Regions from separate parts of the Homo sapiens genome. Here all the other regions are linked to region 1. Evidence: fine-mapped expression QTL. A gene starts in region 1. Each other region holds a variant in brackets. All regions are shown on one strand. Distances are between the middles of the regions.

Region 1 (2,759 bases):
GGGTTTCACCGTGTTAGGCAGGATGGTCTCGATCTCCTGACCTCTTGATCCGCCCGCTTCAGCCTCCCAAAGTACTGGGATTGCAGGCGTGAGCCACCGCGCGCGGCTAATGGCCAATTTTTAACTGCTCACTGAACTATGCAGCTGGATGTTGCTTTAAGAATTTAGAGGAGGTCGGGTCTGTTGGCTCACGCCTGTAATCCCTGCACTTTGGGAGGTCAAGGCAGGCCGACAGCTTGGGCCCAGGAGTTCAAGACCAGACTGAGCAACATGGCAGAATCAGCTAAGTGTGCTGGTGCCTGCCTGTGATCCCAGCTGCTCAAGAGACTGAGATGGGAAGATCACTTGAGCCTTGGAGTTGGAGGCTACAGTGAGTCGTGATCGCACCACTGCACACCAGCCTGGGCGACAGAGTGAGACTGTCTCAAAAATAAATAACTTAAAAGAAAATCTCCCTTCGTCTAAATCCTGTCTACTTCCAAGACACACACACACACACACACACACACACACACACACACACACACACACACACACACACACAAAATCTTGGCCGGACGTGGTGGCTCACGCCTGTAATCCCAGCACTTTGGGAAGCCGAGGCGGGCGGATCAACTAAGGTTGGGAGTTCAAGATGAGCCTGACCAACATGGAGAAACCACGTCTTTACTAAAAATACAAAATTAGCTGGGCGCGGTGGCGCATGCCTGTAATCCCAGTTACTTGGGAGGCTGAGGAAGGAGAATCGCTTGAACCCGGGAGGCGGAGGTTGCAGTGAGCCGAAATCACACCATTGCACTGCAGCCTGGGCAATAAGAGCGAAACTCCGTCTCAAAAATAAATAAAGAAATAAAAGCTGAATCACAACATCTTCCTCTGAAGTGTTGTTGTGACGTTAAAAATGAGATAATAGGCTGGGTGGGTCACGCCTTGTAATCCCAGTACTTTGGGAGGCCCATCACTTTGAGACTAGGAGTCCGAGATCAGCCTGGGTAACATGGCTGAGATAACGACTATAAAGTGAATGGCACATAGTAAGTGGTTAGCTAATGTTTGACTCAGCCCCACTCTTCAGTGATCCTTGTGGGCATTTCTTCACAAAGTTGCAAGGTATTTCTGTAGTCCTCTCTCCAGTATTTTTCAGTATTTGTTCTAGCACACACTAGGTCTTCCACAAAAATGATTGAATGAAAACTCCTGGCAGCGGGAAAGCGGGGTGGGGATGTGGGGAGGGGCACCCCAACACAAACACACAGAAAATGCTACTACAGAACATCGGTTACTGGGCAGCGGTACATTTCAGAACCCCTAGGGTGCCCTCACATCCTGCCTGGCTGGCCTGCTTCAAACGGTTCATTTAACCAAGGTCATACTAAAATGTTGGCTGCTACTAAAATCCAGGAACCTTCACTTTTCCCAGATAAGAGAGACAGTTGCTCTATTAGTATGGGCAGCGGTAGGCCCAAAAGATCCCGCCTTCCTCCACAGGGCGAGCCTATCAGCGCTCCTCCAGCGATGAACGACAGCTCTCCAGGAGCCAATGAGTTCCTCCCCCTGGAAGGAACCCGCCCATCCCTTGTGTCGTCACTAGATCTCTTAAAAAGATGGACCCTCAGCGGCGCTTCCTCGTAGCGAGCCTAGTGGCGGGTGTTTGCATTGAAACGTGAGCGCGACCCGACCTTAAAGAGTGGGGAGCAAAGGGAGGACAGAGCCCTTTAAAACGAGGCGGGTGGTGCCTGCCCCTTTAAGGGCGGGGCGTCCGGACGACTGTATCTGAGCCCCAGACTGCCCCGAGTTTCTGTCGCAGGCTGCGAGGAAAGGCCCCTAGGCTGGGTCTGGGTGCTTGGCGGCGGCGGCTTCCTCCCCGCTCGTCCTCCCCGGGCCCAGAGGCACCTCGGCTTCAGTCATGCTGAGCAGAGTATGGAAGCACCTGACTACGAAGTGCTATCCGTGCGAGAACAGCTATTCCACGAGAGGATCCGCGAGTGTATTGTGAGTGCGGGGCCCCGGCGAGGAGAAGCGGGGGTTGCGGGAGACGGGGAGGTTGGGGTCCGAGCCCACCTGGTCTCAGAGTGCCGTCAAACCATGCCTGGGCCAGCGGCGGGCGACGGAGGCCTCCGTCCGGGCAGAAGGGCGGGTGCCCGGCTAGCGATCCCCTAGATGGGATCAGCTGGGTCCCTGAGCGATAAACAAAGGCCGTCGTTTCCGTTCCTCCCCCACACGCCCCTCCCCTGCCCCTCCCTCCCACCCCTCACCCAGCGCGTCTTCCTGTTGGGGGTCTCCGGGGTCTGAGAGCCTGCGGAGTCTGCCTTAGTCTGATAATCGGGGAAGGATGGGTTTGCTTCTCAAACTGGGTTGAGGGCAAACTCAGCTGACGTTGGATGAAGGGGAGACGTCGTCACACTGAGCTTGATTCCAGAAAAGAGGGGAGGTGTAGGGATGGCAGACGGGAGGAACCTGGGGACTTGGTGGGTCATCTGCTTTGGAAGAAAGGAGTCTTGCTGGGGTGGATCCTAATATGTAGAGATGAGGAACAACCAAGTATTCCCCCGTCTTTTTTCTTTCTCATTGGTGTTTGTTTGAAACCCTGCAAGGCTGGGTTCCCAGCCTCTCAGCCATTCCGGGGTTTCCCCAGTGAGTGGTCCTCCCAGGGCTTCAGAGGGTACCTGGCTGCTGTTCCTTACGCCCTCCCTGCCACTTAGAGCGACAACTGAACCTTGCGCACAGAAGTGGACTACTCAATTCTGGGGTAGGGGTAC
Region 2 (2,759 bases), 63 kb before region 1:
TTTGGGAGGCCTTATCTCTAAAAAAAAAAAAACAAAAAAACTTTTTTTTTTTGTTTTTTGTTTTTTTAAGACAGTCTCTGTCGCCAGGTTAGAGTGCAGTGGTGCGATCTCGACTCACAGCAACCTCCGCCTGCTGGGTTCAAGCGATTCTCCTGGCTCAGCCTCCCAAGTAGCTGGGACCACAGGCGCATGCCACCATGCCCAGCTAATTTTTGTATTTTTAGTAGAGACAGTGTTTCAGCATGTTGGCCAGGAGGGTCTCGATCTCTCGACCTCGTGATCCACCCACCTTAGTCTCCCAAAGTGCTGGGATTAGAGGCATAAGCCACCGAGCCTGGCCTGTAATTTTATTTTAGTAGAAACTGGGTTTCACCATGTCTGCCAGGCTAGTCTTGAACTCCTGGCCTCAAGTGATTCACCTGCCTTGGCCTCCCAAAGTGCTGGTATTACAAGCGTGAGCCAATGTGCCCAGTCAAAACAATTTTTTTTAATTAGCTGGGCGTGGTGGCGCAGCCCTGTAGTCCTAGCTACTTAGGTGGCCAAGGCAGGAGGATCCCTTGAGCTCAGGAGTGCAAGGCTGCAGTGAGCTGTGATCATATCACTGCACTCCAGCCTAGACGACAGAGCAAGACCCTGTCTCAAAAAAAACCACAAAAAACAAAAACAAAAAAACCCTGAGACATAGGGCAGGCTTCCATCTAGTAAATGGAGTAAGGAGGTAGGAAACAGCTGTAGAAAGAAAATGACACTTGCCGTGGACAGTAGCACATGCCTGTAATATCAACATTTTGGGAGGCTGAGGCAGGAGTATCGCTTGAGGCCAGGAGTTTGAGACCAGCCTGCACAACATAACACGACCCAGTCTCTCTTAAAAAAAAGAAAAAAGAAAAAAGAAAAATTTAATTAGCTGTGTGCAGTGGCAGTGCCTGGAGTCCCAGACACTCAGGAAGCTGAGACAGGAAGATCTCTTGAGCCTGGGAGATCAAGGTGCAGTGAGCTATGATTGGCCACTGTATTCCAGCCTGGGCAACAGAGCAAGACTCTGTCTCAAAAAAAAAAAAAAAGAAAAAAAGAAAAGAAAAGAAAATGAGAATGACAGTAACATACCACCATTTCCAATCCAGCATCAGAAGTAATGAATCAAAAGGTCCAGTATAAAGTTGGGCTCAGTGGCTCACACTTGTAATCCCAGCATTTTGGAAGGCTGAGGTAGGAGTATCACTTGGGCCAGGAGTTTGAGACAAGCCTGGGCAACATGGCGAGACCCTGTCTCTACAAAAAATAAATCAGCTGAGTGTGGTGGCCAATGTCTGTAGTCC[C/T]AGCTACTCAGGAGGCTGAGGCAGGAAGATCACTTGAGCCTAGGTGGTCAAGGCTGCAGTGAGCCATGATCACATCATTGCACTTCATCTTGGGTGATAGAGAGGAGACCCTATCTTTAAAAAAAATTAAATGAGGCCAGGCAGGGTGGCTTACGCCTGTAATCCTAGCACTTTGGGAGGCCAAGGCGGGCAGATCACAAGGTCAGGAGATAGATACCATCCTGGCTAACATGGTGAAACCCTGTCTCTACTAAAAATACAAAATATCAGCTGGGCGTTGTGGCACATGCCTGTAGTCCCAGCTACTCAGGAGACTGAGGCAGGAGAATCGCTTGAACCTGGGAGGCGGAGGTTGCAGTAAGCCAAGATCGCACCACTGCACTCCAGCCTGGACAACAGAACAAAAATCCGTCTCAAAAAAAAAATTAAATGAATAAAATAAAAATTAAAAGAAAGTCCAATGTAATAAGACGAAGAGGAGCTAACCCTAGAGAAAGGAGCTTAAAGAGATCAGGCCAGGTATCCAAGAAATAACACAAGGGGAAAACATCAGGGACCTAGGCAGAGGCCTGGTAGGCAGACTGACTGGCTCCCATGTTAGGGATTATATAAGGAAACAACAGCTCAATGCACCTTTGGGTGTTGGGTGTCCAGGATATTGAAGGCCAGATATTTAAGGTCTTTTTGCCTGTTGGTCAGAAACCTCCCACAATTCCTTGCCGCAAGGGCCTCTCCAAAGAGTAGCAGACAGCAAATGGCTTCCCTCAGGACAAGTGAGCAAGACAGCAAGAGAGAGCTGCCAAGATGAAAGTCACAGTCTTTTTGTAATGTAATATCGGAAGTGACATCTCATCACTTTTGCTGTAGCTAATAAGAAGTGAATCACGCATGGCCGGGTACGGTGGCTTACGCCTATAATCTCAGCACTTTGGGAGGCCGAGGCAGGTGGATCACCTGAGGTCAGGAGTTAGAGACCAGTCTGGCCAACATAGTGAAACCCTGTCTCTACTAAAATTACAAAAATTAGCCAGGCGTGGTAGCACAGGCCTGTAATCCCAGCTACTCAGGAGTCTGAGGCAGGAGAATCACTGGAACCCGGGAGGCGGAGGTTGCAATAAGCCAAGACTGCGCCATTGCACTCCAGCCTGGGCAACAAGAGTGAAACTCTGTCTCAAAAAATAATAATAACAATAATAATAATAATGAGAATTTAACCAATAAGTACATATGATTACATAGATTCTGTAATTCTTAGAAAAATCACAGATCCTGGATCTAGTTTTCTCTTCTCAGGCTTGCAAATTATAAATAAATAAAAGAAGTGCCTCTAAAAGATTCATAACCAAACATAATGCCAAGTCTTGTTTTTCTACAATATATAGTATCTCTATTTACATAAAATTATATATGTGTATATGCCTAGAGAGATGTCTAATAGGA
Region 3 (2,759 bases), 260 kb before region 1:
CTCGGCGCCCTCTGAGCCCCCGCCAACCCCGCCACCCAGCACCCTTAGCCTCACCTAGCCCAGGCCCCCGCAATCGCCTCGTCGCCCCAGCTCCGGGCTCCGCGTCCCGGACGCTCCCGGGTCTGAGAAGAGGAAAGGAGATCCTCCACCTCCCCTTCTAGAGCCACCGCCGCCGTCGCCGCCGCGCTCCTCCCCCAGCTCTCTCAGAGCCGGACGCCGCCCCGCCCCCACCGCCGCCTCCCCACTTCTCTCCTGGGCCGGACTGCAGGATGCTGCCGGAGATCCAGCAGATCACCCCGACCCTCGCCCAGGCAGCGGCTCGCCCCGCCCCGGAGCCCTCTCGGGCGCGTGCGCGCCAGCCAGCCAGCCAGAGCTCAGGGCGCGTACTCGCGCCGGCGCGAATCCGGCGCGCCAAGCTCGAGGCTGTGGCAGCCAACGGGTGCGCGAGCGCGGCTCGAGCGGCGAGACGGCCCGCGCACCGGAGACCGAGAAGATCGGGGAGAGGCGCGGGGCGGCGAGAGGCGGGCTCCGACCAGTCGGGTTACCGCTCTTCTCGGGGCCCGGTCCCTCGCGTCTCGCACCGTCCGCAGGCTCGCGCGCCACCGGAGACTGGGAATTACCGGGGAAAGGAAGAGACTCGGGGAGAGGGTTGGGGACAAAGTAGATGGAAGGGGAAAACGGGTGGGACGCGAGCTCGCGTCCGCGTGCAGCACAGCTCGTACCCGGCGGCATCGGTTAGGGACCCGGCGCGCGCCGGGAACGGAGGGCCCGAGCTGAACTGACGGAAAGAGCCGAAACTCCCCCGGAGGTGGCCGAACGCGGGCGCCGCTAGGGGAGTCGAGCGCGGGGCTTTTGCTCAATGTCCGGGTTGGGAAGCTTTTTCTCTGGCCGCCGGGTACAGCGCCGCTCACTCTTCCGTACCGAGGACTTCACACCGCTTTCCCCTTCGCCTCCTTCCCGACCCAAGTTTTGTTCCAAAAGGCAATTTCAGAGTCGCCAACGACGGGAAACGCTGGGGCCTCCGGACCGCGCGGTCGCTCTGCCTCCTGAGAGAGCGCAGAGGCCGGTGGGGGCGCGGGAAGAATGACCTCGGGATCGTCAGTCGGGTTTCTGATCTACCCAGCTGTCAGCATAGCCCCTCTACGCGGCGGTGGTCGGTCCCGCCGCCCTTCGAATC[T/A]TTTCTGTTAAATACTCTCTTCGACGCCAGACTCCCAACCTCCCTGGTGCTGGAACTAACTAGTATTTGTGCACCCTTTCTGCATGCATAAAGCACTTACCTCAGTGTCGACTGGTCAGGGGTCTATTAAGAGGGGCCAGAGGGATTTAGACAGTCAGCATTGAAAATATTTATTAGAATCTGGGGCCGGGCGCGGTGGCTCACGTCTGTAATCCCAGCACTTCTGAGAGGCCGAGGCGGGCGGATGACTTGAGGTCAGGAGTTCGAGACCAGCCTGGCTAACATAGTGAAACCCCGTCTCTACAAAAAATACAAAAATTAGCCGGATGTGGTGGCACACGCCTGTAATCTCAGCTACTCGGGAGGCTGAGGCAGGAGAATAACCTGAACCCAGGAGTCGGAGGTTGCAGTGAGCCGGGATTGCACCACTGCACTCCACCCTCCATCTCAAAAAATATATATATATATTAGAATTTGTCCTCATCTTACCTTTTGAGGCCAAGCAAAGGGGCTCTGAAAAGGCACCAACAAGCTGGAGAGTGTGTGTCAGTGTATAGCTAGACACCACAGGCACATGTCATTTTGGTTTCCACGTATGTTATTGCAATCACAGTACATGTAACTGAGTAGTATAGTAGAGCTTTGCCAAGCCATCTGATCCTTGTGGTTTTTAACGTTGCTTGAGGTAAGGGCTCAAAAATCGCCTGGAGTCCAATGACCTGTGGTTAGTAATGTCTCATCTACTCCAACCATATGATTTACTGATCTAGATAAGCAGAAGACGAAGTCATCCAGCTAGGTACGGCACTGGACTATATGTTCCTTACTATTCAATCTTCATTCAAAAATTCAAATAGAAGCAAATTATCCAAATGTCTGCTTTCTTTTCATTCACTAAATTGGCACCTACTCAATGATGGTGGGTATTGTTCTAGGTATTCGAACATTTACAAAGAAGAATAAAAAAAATCATTACCCCAAGGAGAGTATCCAGTTCCAAAGGAGGATAAAGTTATTAAATAGGCCAGTTGCAGCAGCTTATGCCTGTAATCCCAACACTTTGAGAGGCCAAGGTGGGAGGATTGCTTGAGCCCAGGAGTTTGAGACCAGCCTGAGCAACATAACAAGGTCCCCCATCTCTACAAAAAACAAATATAAGTTATTAAATGACTATAATAACATAGTGTTGAAGCAGAAAAGTACAAAGTGGTTTAGGAACAGAAAGGAATGAGTGACTAATTCTTGCACAATTCCCCTTCCTTCCCATACAGAGTAGGAACAGGAGGATATGACCCTGGTAAATGGAGAACTTCATCATGAGGTGTGGGATGCGAGCCTTGAGTCCTATTCCACAAAGACTGGTTTCACTCACCAAAAGTCACTCAGTTCAGGAAATGCCTTCATTATAGGGCCTGTTGGTGCTGCAAAGCCAATACAAGTTTTTTGGCTGGAAAATAAAGTCCCCATTCTTGGCCAGGTTCGGTGGCTCATGCCTGTAATCCCAAAACTTTGAGAGGCTGAGGTGGATCACTTGAGCCCAGGGGTTTGAGATTAGCCTGGGCAACATAGGGAGACCCTGTCT

The links. PIP is the estimated chance that this variant, and not a neighbour inherited with it, causes the effect.
Region 2: its variant is fine-mapped to the expression of LMBR1L in whole blood (INTERVAL, PIP 0.94).
Region 3: its variant is fine-mapped to the expression of LMBR1L in whole blood (INTERVAL, PIP 0.98).

The regions. Positions count from the first base shown.
Region 1 is chr12:49,109,717-49,112,475 of GRCh38, reverse strand. LMBR1L (limb development membrane protein 1 like) reads left to right here and starts at 1,629. Exons shown (of 17, transcript NM_018113.4): 1 at 1,629-1,992. The coding sequence starts at 1,921. RefSeq lists a silencer at 883-1,063 and an enhancer at 1,921-2,460.
Region 2 is chr12:49,172,226-49,174,984 of GRCh38, reverse strand. No RefSeq gene overlaps it. Among named protein-coding and RNA genes, the nearest start is that of TUBA1A, 15 kb to the left of the region's middle. RefSeq lists a silencer at 1,356-1,561. The variant C/T (reference allele first, on the strand shown) is at 1,320.
Region 3 is chr12:49,364,883-49,367,641 of GRCh38, reverse strand. It overlaps SPATS2 (spermatogenesis associated serine rich 2), which reads right to left and starts at 180. Exons shown (of 14, transcript NM_023071.4): 1 at 55-180. RefSeq lists silencers at 1-50, 71-550 and an enhancer at 841-1,100. The variant T/A (reference allele first, on the strand shown) is at 1,178.